3 linked regions of the Homo sapiens genome follow. The protein of the gene in region 3 purifies or fractionates together with the protein of the main gene of each other region. This does not show direct contact. Each region holds a gene or a part of one and is shown on either strand. Other genes may lie near its edges.

The links.
Region 1: the proteins of RNASEH1 (region 3) and MAGED4B purify together in Homo sapiens (affinity purification with mass spectrometry, with the first as the bait; one large-scale study listed by BioGRID). This does not show direct contact.
Region 2: the proteins of RNASEH1 (region 3) and LUC7L purify together in Homo sapiens (affinity purification with mass spectrometry; 3 studies listed by BioGRID and IntAct, with this or other methods). This does not show direct contact.

Annotation. Positions count from the first base shown.
Region 1 is NC_000023.11:52,067,002-52,070,749, forward strand, and holds the start of MAGED4B (melanoma-associated antigen D4), read right to left. Parts: upstream 2,183-3,748; 5' UTR 2,129-2,182; intron 1,224-2,128; exon of another isoform or gene 1,203-1,223; 5' UTR 1,172-1,202; coding exon 962-1,171; intron 698-961; coding exon 1-697. UniProt on the Homo sapiens protein: May enhance ubiquitin ligase activity of RING-type zinc finger-containing E3 ubiquitin-protein ligases. Proposed to act through recruitment and/or stabilization of the Ubl-conjugating enzyme (E2) at the E3:substrate complex.
Region 2 is NC_000016.10:219,367-223,014, reverse strand, and holds part of LUC7L (putative RNA-binding protein Luc7-like 1), read left to right. Parts: intron 1-2,267; coding exon 2,268-2,366; intron 2,367-3,648. UniProt on the Homo sapiens protein: May bind to RNA via its Arg/Ser-rich domain.
Region 3 is NC_000002.12:3,548,262-3,551,909, reverse strand, and holds part of RNASEH1 (ribonuclease H1 isoform 1 precursor), read left to right. Parts: intron 1-1,437; coding exon 1,438-1,537; intron 1,538-2,797; coding exon 2,798-2,852; intron 2,853-3,185; coding exon 3,186-3,270; intron 3,271-3,648. UniProt on the Homo sapiens protein: Endonuclease that specifically degrades the RNA of RNA-DNA hybrids.

The sequences.
Region 1 (3,748 bases), on a different chromosome or scaffold from region 3:
GCTCCACCCACCGAGTCTTGGCCAGCGCCTTCCCCGACTTGGTGGTCTTGGGCCGGGTGGCTGCCACCTCCCTGCCAGGTCCCGTCTGGGGCACACCAGAGGCAGCACTGGGGCCCTCTGTGGCAGCCTCTTGGGCTGGGGCAGGTCTCTTGGGGCGCGGGAAGGCCATGCCACTGACACCTGCCGGCTGAGTGAAATCGAAGACATCATTCTGGCCCAGGAAGGCTGTGCTGGGCCGGTTGGCGTCCACCTCCCTGGCACACGGAGCCTGAGAGAAAGCACAGGCGCTACTAGGGCCCTCAGTAGCAGCCTCCTGGGCCGGGGAGCCTGTCTGGGACTGTGCGGAGGTTGCCGGAGCCTCGGGGGCAGCCATCTTACTGGTGACTAACATCTGGGAGGTCTGCGGAGAAGCAAGGGGTGGCTCAGGGGTGGGCCCCTGAGCCTCGGCGGCGTAGGTCGTGGGCTGGGTATCCTCTCCTGAGACCTGCGGCGTGGCCACCCGGTGGCTAGCGACCACCTGACTGAAGGCGGTACGGGCAGCGGCGGCAGCGGCCCGAGCCGCACGGTTGGAGGCGGCGGCGCGGGCTACGTTGGCAGCACGGGCGGCCGTCTCATTGGCAAGTGTTTCCGGATCCAGCTGCAATGCCTCCACCAGGGTCTGGGCCAGCACAGGGTTTTCCAGTTCCCAGGGCTCATTCTGCAAGGCCAGAGAGAGGGGTTGGGGAAGGCAGGCCACTCGACGACATACTTGTGTTAGCTTCCCTGTGCTGGCCAGCCTCTTCCCAGCAGTCAGCCCTGAACACCCCAAGACCTTCCCAAATCTTCTTCTTCCGAGCAGGGGAGGGAAGGCTTGGGAAGCTGGGCAGTCCTTTCCCACACAACCCTCCTGGCTCCCCCCTCCTCCCTCCCCCATTCACAGGGGAAAGGCCCAGGCCAGCAGGTGTCCAGGAAGGGGCCTCACCGATAAGATGCGAAGGCCTGGACCCAAGCTTCCGAAGGCTCTGAGGATATGGATGTCAAAGCTGGTGAGGGTGCCATAGCCACCAAACGCACCGAATTCTTCATAGTCGTTGCCTTCAACCATCTCTTCCTCCCCGACTTCGTCGCTACCCTCATCCATGTCTTCAACACTGTAGCTTTCCGATTGCACGCTGAAGCTTCCCTCAGCCATGCTGCGGGTCCCAGGGAGATGAGAGCTCAGCCTGAGAGGGAGGGTGAAGCAGCTGCAGGGGGAGGGGGCGGGATCCAATGGGAGGCGGGATCTCCCGGGAGGTGAGGGGCGACAATCATCAGGTTACTAGGCAATATTAGGCAGTAGGGGGCGGGGGGGGGGAGGAGGAGCGGGGGGGAGACGGTTTGGCTTTCTGATGGGGTAGACCTGGTCAGGGACAGAGCCCAAGGAAAGGGACAGAGGAGGTCGCAGGAGGCGCCGCACTGAAAGCGGAGTTTAGGATGGGCAGGCTCGCCATCCCAGCGGCTAGATTTGACGAGGGGGTGTTCTGGAGGGCTGGGGTCCGAAGAGTCCCAAAGGGAATGCATTGGGGAAGAGAGAAACAAAGGGTTTGGATTTACGGGCCAGAGAAGGGGACCGGGATGAAGGGGGAGCAGATGGGAGAGCTCAGACAACAGGGACAGTGGCAAGCCGCAAGCTCTGCGAAACAGAACCCCAGGGACCTTTGGCTAGGTCCGGGCGGGGGGCCTAGGTGGGGCTCAGACTCGAGCACTAGAGGCGGATGGAGTGGGGGCCTCAGACCTAGGTGAGGCTCCAATCGGAGCGCTGCAGATCTCAAACGCGAGGACTGGGCACTCCAGGAAGGGGGCAAGCGGTCAGCTCGGTTCGAGTAATCTAGGAGTGGTTGGGGTGGGGGTGGGGCCTCAGGTCCAAGGGAGCTCAGCTCGGAGCACACGGGTCTGCTAAAGGGGTGAGGATCCTGGGCTCCGGTTTCAGTAGGGCTCAGATCGGGGCGCCTGGGTCTGATGGTGATGGGGGCTCCTATCTAGACCTTGGGTCTAATGGGGTTCCGGTTCTGAGTGCTTGGGCTTTGTTCAGATCCGGAGGCGGAGGGAGGGCGCAGCGTGTCGGGTTCCACTCGCCCTCTCCCGGTCCTGTCTGGGGCTGGATCCTTACCTTCTCGGGAACTCCAATGGCGTCCGTCCTCAGCACCAGGAACCCCGCAGCCGCGCCCTCGCCTACTGCTGCCAGCACAGCAGCCCGGACCACCCCGCCCCTTTTCTCCGTGCACCCCCCGCGGCTGGGTAGCCTGCGCATGCGCGGACCCCTCCAGCCCGCCCGCTTTCCCAACAAAAGCCCTTTCCTCCAGGTCTCCAGTGCGCATGCGATTCCGCGGGTGGGTGGGCGGTGGGGTCGAAGGTAGGGTGCGGGGGGCTCTTCCCGCCAGATCCACTTCACCTCTCCTCCTCCTCCTCCTCCTACCGCGGGCGCGCACACTCATACCCTGCAGTGCAGCTCGACCCACCCAATCATCTCTTCTCAGTCCCCCCACTTTTGCACAATGCTTCTCTGTCCTGCCCTGCCCTTTCACCCAAACTCCTCCAGCCTGGTCTGGGATACACTATGCCCCGTTTCCCCGGCAAGACCCCTTAGGTCACAATTAGTGAGGTCTCACAATTAATAAGCTGGGTCTCTAACTGCAACAAGTGGAAATCCTCAACCTGCGGGGCTACGAAATGGACATGGCCAGAGGATGGCACTTCGCTTTGTGTGCTTCTCCACTAGCCAACTCTCTGGCCCCCAGACATACTGGGAACATCTGCTTCCTCAGCTACCCTTTATGCAGCTTGTATGTCACAGAGGGATCTGTGCTGGGGCTTTTCTTCCTCTCACAGCAGCGCTGGGAAGTGGATGTCAGCATCCCCATTTGGCGTGTCAGGAAGCTGAGGCACAGACACATTGCATGAACTAGACCACAGAGCCAGGAAACAGAAAATGCAAAATTTGAACCTGGGTCTTCCGGACTCCAAAGTCCACCTCCTGCTCCTGCTGGCCTGGGGACAGAGGCACCGCCTCCTCCGTCTGAGTGACAGGCCTCCCCCACCCCAACATCTGTCCCAAAGAAGCAAGGTTTGTGCTGTAGAAGGCCTAAGTTCATGCTCCGCATTCAGGACACAGGGAGACAGAGCCTCCCCCCGCCTCGCCCCCAGCCTCTGCGGCTCTATGTGGGTCCATCCAGGTATGAGAATTGCTCCACCGGGTCCACTCTCTACTCAGATTGTCAGGCCTCTTCCTTATCAGCGATACAATCACGCTGCCGCTGAGACCCTCCTGGTGTCCGCCAGGACAATTAGACACCTGTGTGTCTGAGCTAATTACTCCACAATCTACAAGCCCAGTTCAAACTTCACTTTTGAGGTCCAAGTGCATAGTACATTCACCTGCCTACGTGACATCTCCACTTGGATGTCTTTTGAGGCAGAAAATGCTGTGGTCTCATCTGCAGTCGAACCTGGACTGTTTGTAAAATTCGTAGTAGATTTTTATATTTGTTTTTATGTCAGCCTCACCAGGACCCCTGTGTATGAATGGAAGGTATTGCTAGGACAGCAGCTTTTACTCTCCGCTGACCAGTATCCATTCTGCCTGGCTCTGTGGTTTTCTCCAGCTGTTATATATCAATCTCTCCTGTCAGCTGCTTGTGCCTCTTTAGCCCTTCCCCTGTAACATATCCTCTGCGGGAGAGGAACACACCCTACAAACGAAAGCCTTCAGAAAGTGCTACGTGCTAATCAC
Region 2 (3,648 bases), on a different chromosome or scaffold from region 3:
TTTTTCCCCCTCAAGATGGATTAAAGGTTTAAAGCCTTCCTTTCTTTTTTTTTTTTTTTTTTTAAAAGACGGGGTCTCTTTAAAAAGCTGGGCGAGGTGGCTCACGCTCGTAATCCCAGCACTTTGAGAGGCCAAGGTGGGTGGATCACCTGAGGTCAGCAGTTCGAGACCAGCCTGACCAACATGGAGAAACCCCATCTCTACTGAAAATACAAAATTAGCTGGGCGTGGTGGCACATGTCTGTAATTCCAGCTCCTTGGGAGGCTGAGGCAGGAGAATCGCTTGAACCTGGGAGGCGGAGGTTGCGGTGAGCCGAGATTGCACTACAGTCTGGGCAACAAGAGCGAAACTCCATCTCAAAAAAAAAAAAAAATTAAAAAGACAGGGGTCTCTGTTGCTCAGACTGGAGTGCAGTGGCTCAGTCACAGCTCACTTGAAGCCTTGACCTCCTAGGCTCAAGCGATCTCTTCCCCTCAGCCTCCCAAGTGGCTGGGACTACAGGCACATACCACCACACCCAGCTAATTGTTAATTTTTTCATAGAGACAGGGTCTTGCTATGTTGCCCAGGCTGGTCTCAAACTCCTGGGCTCAAGTGATCCTCCCATCTTGCCCTCCCAAAGGTGTTGGGATTACAGACATGTGCCACTGCAACTGGTACTAACGTCTTTTTTTTTTTTTTTTTCTGGTTATGTAGACATGTTCTTTTGTCCTACTGGGGGTGTCTCCTAGTTGGGATGTTGGGTTTTGTTAACATGCACTCTATAACTTGACACGATGATCCTCAGCACACAAACCTCCCTGTTGCTGTGTAGATGGCGAGAGGCAGAAGGTGTCTGCATAGAGTCCTATACTTAGGATTTAGATTAAAATCATACACTGTTTTCTAATTGTACTGCATATGGTACACATAATAGCACATCATGCTGTTCTTACTGACAACATAAATCATTTTGTTTTAGTAATGGAACGTTTTGCTTGTCAAATGGAGGAACTGAGTGGGACAATTATCTGTCCTCACTTAGATGTCCAGGGTCATTTCCCAGGCTAAGAAAATGTGTAGAGCATGTATTTGGCTACGAACCAGCCTGTTCTCCTTTATTCCCTTTGATACACAATCAGCTACACAAAGCCAAGTGTTAGGTTGTGATGTAATTGCCAAAATCTAACTTCTGTCCGCTCTTTCCTCTTCCTCTGTCTCTGCATCTTAAGCATCGAGCATCTCAAGTAGTCAAGATTGCAAGACAATGCCTAGAAATTTGTTGCAGTGAGACTGTTTTCTGGCCCTTTCCTTTTTTTTTTCCCCTTTTCTGAGACAGAGTCTCACTTTATCACCCAGGCTGGAGTGCAGTGGCACAGTCTTGGCTCACTGCAAACTCCACCTCCTGGGTTCAAGCGATTCTTGTGTCTCAGCTCCCCAGGTAGCTGGGATTACAGGTGCCCTGCCACCACACCTGGCTAATTTTTGTAGTTTTAGTGGAGACTGGGTTTTATCATGTTGGGCAGGCTGGCCTTGAACTCCTGACCTCAAGTGATCCGCCTGCCTCACCCTCCCAAAGTGCTGGGATTACAGGCGTGAGCCACCACGCCCAGCCCTGGCCGTTTCCTATCCCTGCCACCCCACATGCTGCCATTTACTGAATCCTTGGACTGATGCATAAATAAAACTGGGCCAGGCACCGTGGCTCACACCTGTAATGCCAGCTCTTTGGGAGGCCAAGGTGGGTGTATCACTTGAGGTCAGAGGTTCAAGACCAGCCTGGCCAACGTGGCGAAACCCTGTCCCTACTGAAAATACAAAAAAAAAAAAAAAAAAAAAAAAAAAAAATTAGCTGGGTGTGGTATCACGTGCCTGTAATCCCAGCTACTTGGGAGAATGAGGCAGGAGAATTGCCTGAACCCCGGAGGCAGAGGTTACAGTAAGCTGAGGTCGCGCCACTGTACTCCAGCCTGGGTGACAGGTGAGACTCCTTAAAAACTGGCAAAAGCCAATTAATGTAGTTGTGATGATTACAGTCCAATTATCTCTGGGTCTAAAATAGAAACTTTACACTATTAAATGCATCAGTTTCAAGTATCACGTAGTCACGATGGTAAAAGTGAAATGAGGCTTCTCAGCCATATCTCCTTTCTTAATTTTCTTATTGCAGTGTCAGTGTTCCAAAAGTGATCATTTCTGTTGGTGACAGTTGAAACACCAAGTCGCGTTGTGTGCTTTCTACAGTAGGTAGGCACTGAGGTCTGCATTTTCTGTTTCTTTCCCACAGCGCATGGATTTAGGAGAATGTACCAAAATCCACGACTTGGCCCTCCGAGCAGATTATGAGATTGCAAGTAAAGAAAGAGACCTGTTTTTTGAATTAGATGTAAGTTTTATTTAATGTTGATTTATTCCTACTGCGAAGAACCCAATATTGAACTAACAAGAAAAATGTAACATACGTAAGTTATGAAGCAAAATAATAAGGTAGTTGCTTGTTATCCTGCCACTCAAGCTCAGAGCTAGAATACAGCCAGTACTGTTTATATGTTGTGTCCAGCGTCCTGTCAGTGTCCTAAATGATAATATGTGTTATCTCATTTTGTTGCTTTTAAAAATTTTAATTACATTTTTATGAGTCCTTGAACAGTGTTTATTTTTGCTTAGTTTTGAATGGTTTCATAGTGTAGAGTCTTTAAAATTAGATTTTTTTGGTTCAGTATCATGTTTCTGTTTGCCCAGGTTGTTGCATATAGTTTTCATTGCTGCTTGAATAATTCTCAAACGATCTTTGCTTTATTCATAGACATTTAGATTGATTCTAGTTTTGCTACTGCAGACAATATGAATATTTTTGCATAACTTCCTTGTCACGTGGATAAGGATTTATTTTGGGTATATTCCTAGGAGAGGGATTGCTGGTTTATAGGAGATACCCGTATTTATCCTCGCAAGACAATTTTGTAATGTTGTCTTCTTGTTTCTATTTGGTAAAGTCCCATAGCAGTGTCTGCACGCTCACCAACACTTTGTATTATCAGACTGTTTAATTTTTGCAGTTTAGTGGTTGTAAAATGGCATTTCTTTCTGATCTCAATTTGCATTTTTTTAGTACTCAGTAGTTGTGTTATTTTATCTACATTAGTAAATTCTTTTTTTTTTTTTGAGACGGAGTTTCACTCTTGTTGCTCAGGCTGGAGAGCAGTAGTGCGATCTTGGCTCACTGCAACCTACTCCTCCCAGGTTCAAGCAATTCTGCCTCAGCCTCCTGAGGAGCTGGGAATACAGGCATGAGCCGCCATGCCCGGCTGATTTTGTATTTTTAGTAGAGATGGTGTTTCTCCATGTTGATCAGGCTGGTCTCGAACTCTCAACGTCAGGTGATCCGCCCGCCTCAGCCTCCCAAAGTGCTGGGATTACAGGTTGAGCCACCGTGCCTAGCTTCTTTTTCTTTTTGATACAGAGTTTCACTCTGTTGCCCAGGCTGGAGTGCAGCAGCATGATTATAGCTGACTGTAAGTGAATTGCTGGGCTCAGGTGATCCTTCTTCCACAGTCTCCTAAATAGCTAGTACTACAGATGCACACGACCATGTCTGGCTAATTATTTATTTAATTTATTTTAATTTTTATTTATTTATTTATTTTGAGACAGAGTCTTGCTCTGTC
Region 3 (3,648 bases):
TGAAATACTAGTATTCCCTGTGCATGCAGTACTTAACGTTAAGATGAAATGCGAAGACTCCAGCTTTTTCAAATAACACCTCACACGCAGCTGCTTGTTATAATTGATTAGCACCAGCATTTTAACCTTTCATATTCAATCTTTGGAAAACAAGAGATTCTATTTTATCCTGAGAAGCAAGGTAGTAGTGAACTTTTCTGCTACCTTTCACTCCAGGAATCAGTTATGTATTTAGTGACTCACAGAATAGAATTCTCCTTTGTGTCTTTTACACATATGAGCAGAAAGTAGAAATAAGCATTAAAAAATATAAATCAGTATATTTATAGGTTCTAATTTAATTCAAGGGAAACCAGTAGAAAATGTTTTGCCAAGCTGTATTATTTATAGATATGTTTTGCAGTTACGTAAAAAAAGATCAAACAAGTATTCTTTATTTGGTGATTTACTAGTAGGAATTGAAGCAAAGATTTGTGGAGTTGCAGGGAGATGAGCCGTTTCCAGACACTGACCATTGCTGGAGGCTTGGTGGCCTGGAACATGGCGGATAGCAGGTGCTGGCTCCTGAGACAGTTCAGTGGCTGGGTGGGAAGCTTGTAGTCATGCTGATACAGTTAAGTTCCAGCTGAACGGAGGAGCCCTGCCCAACACCCACACTCCCCTTGGCTCTCAGCCCCGCTCCTGTGAGGAGCACATCCCCATCTTTGCCCCTTCGCCACTGCTGAGCTCAGTCTGCCGTCCTTCGGACAAGTACTTCCACTTCCTGCGCGTACCACCTCTATTTGCCCTCTCGCCCAGCTCTTTTAACACTGTGCAACCTGACCTCTGATCCCACCACACTACTGAAGTGTCCTGGTCACCAGTGGCCTGAGAATGCCCCCGTCAGTCCTTTTTTACCTTGTTCTTTACAGCCTTTGTGTGTCAATCATACCCTCTATCTAGAGGGAAAGAAGCAAAGACGGGAACCACACTTAACTAGCAGCAAATATGCCAGGGAAGAAATTAGACCAGCACTGGTCAGGAGACTGGGCCCTCTGGCAGGCAGGGTCACCGTCATGCTGAGGCGCTGCTCGTCTCTGGAGGATGGCTCCCTGGGAGTGAAGGTGACCCTGCCGTGGAGACAGCGCCATTGTCCTCTGAACCCACAGTGTGGGATGTGAACAGTAGTTTTTACTGCAGCAGGCTCTAGTTTTACAAGGTGATTGCCTTCACCCCGAACTTGCCTGGCCTGCAAGATCAAAATGTAAGTGGATTCCAAGCATAAATGTTAGGTGCCCCCTTGTAAGGAATGGAGCATGTTTTCCTAGAGAGAAAACGTCTGCAGCGTTGTAAAATACCCTCTCGGTTTAAAATGCTAAGTCGACCTAGTGGATTTTTGAGGTGAATTTCAGTTTTTAGTAAGGTCAGCCCAGCAGCATGTACTTCCTTTTCCCACAGGAGACTTCGTCGTCGTCTACACTGATGGCTGCTGCTCCAGTAATGGGCGTAGAAGGCCGCGAGCAGGAATCGGCGTTTACTGGGGGCCAGGCCATCCTTTGTAAGTTAAACGAAGCTGAGTTTTACTGAATCATGTTCCACAACTTGTGAAAAGATGAGGCGGGATCTGCTCATTGTTTGATTATTGGGAAAACCTGCAGATAAGTAGCTCTGGCAGGGGTGGCAGAGGAGCAGCTTTGGTTCGTGTTGGGGCTAAGCGGCATTGCTTTTCAGAACGTGAGGTACCTCAGCTTTACTTCCTTTGCTTTTTTTTTTTTTTTTTTTTTTTTTAAGACACGGTCTCACACTGTTGCCCAGGATGGAGTACAGTGGCACAAACACAGCTCACTGCAGACTTCACCTTCTGGGCTCAAGCGATCCTCCCACCTTGGCCTCCCAAACTGTTGGGATTATGGGTGTGAGCCACTGCACCTGGCTTTGGTGTTTCTTTCTTGCCCTGGGGAGGAGTCTTTTTTTTTTTTTTTCCTGAGACGGAGTCTCACTCTATCGCCCAGGCTAGAGTGCAGTGGCGCGATCTCGGCTCACTGCAAGCTCCACTTCCCAGGTTCACGCCATTCTCCTTCCTCACCCTCCCGAGTAGCTGGGACTACAGGCACCTGCCACCAGGCCCAGCTAATTTTTTGTATTTTTAGTAGAGACGGGGTTTCACCGTGTTAGCCAGGATGGTCTCGATCTTCTGACCTCGTGATCCGCCCACCTCGGCCTCCCAAGAGGAGTCCTTTTTTCAGTAGAGATGAAGTCTCACTATGTTGCCCAGGCTGGGCTCAAATTTCTGGGCTCATGCGATCCTCCCACCTTGTCCTCCCAAAGTGCCGAGATCACAGGTGTGAGCCACCACCCCTGGCCCAAAAATTGCTCATTCTTTTAGGAAACTCTGGATCTCCTGGTGACCCCAAATTTTAAATAACTTGTCTAAGGGTTTTTCTGGTTCCTTGATTTCATTTTCCTCTTTTACTTCCTGGAGGTTTTTAGTAGTTTCAATCTGAAGTCTCACTCTCTCCATTCTTCTTCCCGAGTTTTCTCCTGGGATTCTTTCTGCTGCAGCCATAGGGCCTAACCCAGGGTCCGCAGAGAACCAGCTTTTACTTCCTTTGCCCTAGTGGAACCCATGAGAGTCAGAAGGTGCCCAAGTGTGGAAACCTGTGTGCTGCTCTCTGCTGGGAGTCTGTTAGTTTGATTTTTATATGATGCTTTTATATTTCAAATAAGAATACACACTAGTTTATCGTTATCCATTAAGAAGAATCACTTTGAGAATTCACTTTATACTTTTATTTTCTTTTGTACTGTTTTGAAACAGAAATGTAGGCATTAGACTTCCTGGGCGGCAGACAAACCAAAGAGCGGAAATTCATGTAAGTTATCAGATACGTTTAAGCCTCTCTTTTTTGAGCATTGAGTATGAAATTATCAAATAAACTAATTCTTTTTTTTTCTACCTATACATATAAGATATTTGAAGAGAGACGGGTTTAATAACAATTTTGAAAAATAGGAATTTTGTAGAAAAATTCTAAAAACTTATTTCAAATAGATGTCTACACAGGAGAATTGTATGTATAGTAGTGTTTCATACAGAGAATATAATCAGTACAGAGGGGATGTTTCAATTTCGAAGTACTTTTGAACTTTAGTAATGTCAGAGTTGAACATTTTCTGTAGCATGACTATCGACTTGTCTTTTCAAGGCAGCCTGCAAAGCCATTGAACAAGCAAAGACTCAAAACATCAATAAACTGGTTCTGTATACAGACAGTATGTTTACGATAAATGGTAAGCTTTCACATTTGATTTCTTCTGTTTTTCCAGTAACTGTGAAGGGAAATTGGTAGGAGGTGTTGTAACAGGGCAGGACCCAAATGGGAACGGGGGGATGACATTGGTTTGTCAGGTACCGAGCAAAGAGTGAGGATTTTGGAGTCTCCCTTCTGCTGCTCTGATGTTTTCCACATGCTTATTTCTTTGCCAGGCACTGGAGATGCAGTCAGAAGTGGAAGTGGCTCTTACTTCTAGTCTGTGTGTGTATAAGTCACTTAAGATGGCGTGTTGACTGCTTCTTTGGGAAATGCCCTGAATAGGAGCATGTAGGGGATGCTTACGAGGCTGGGGAAGGCTCCTGGGAGAAATGACATCTTAAGCTGACAGCTGTAG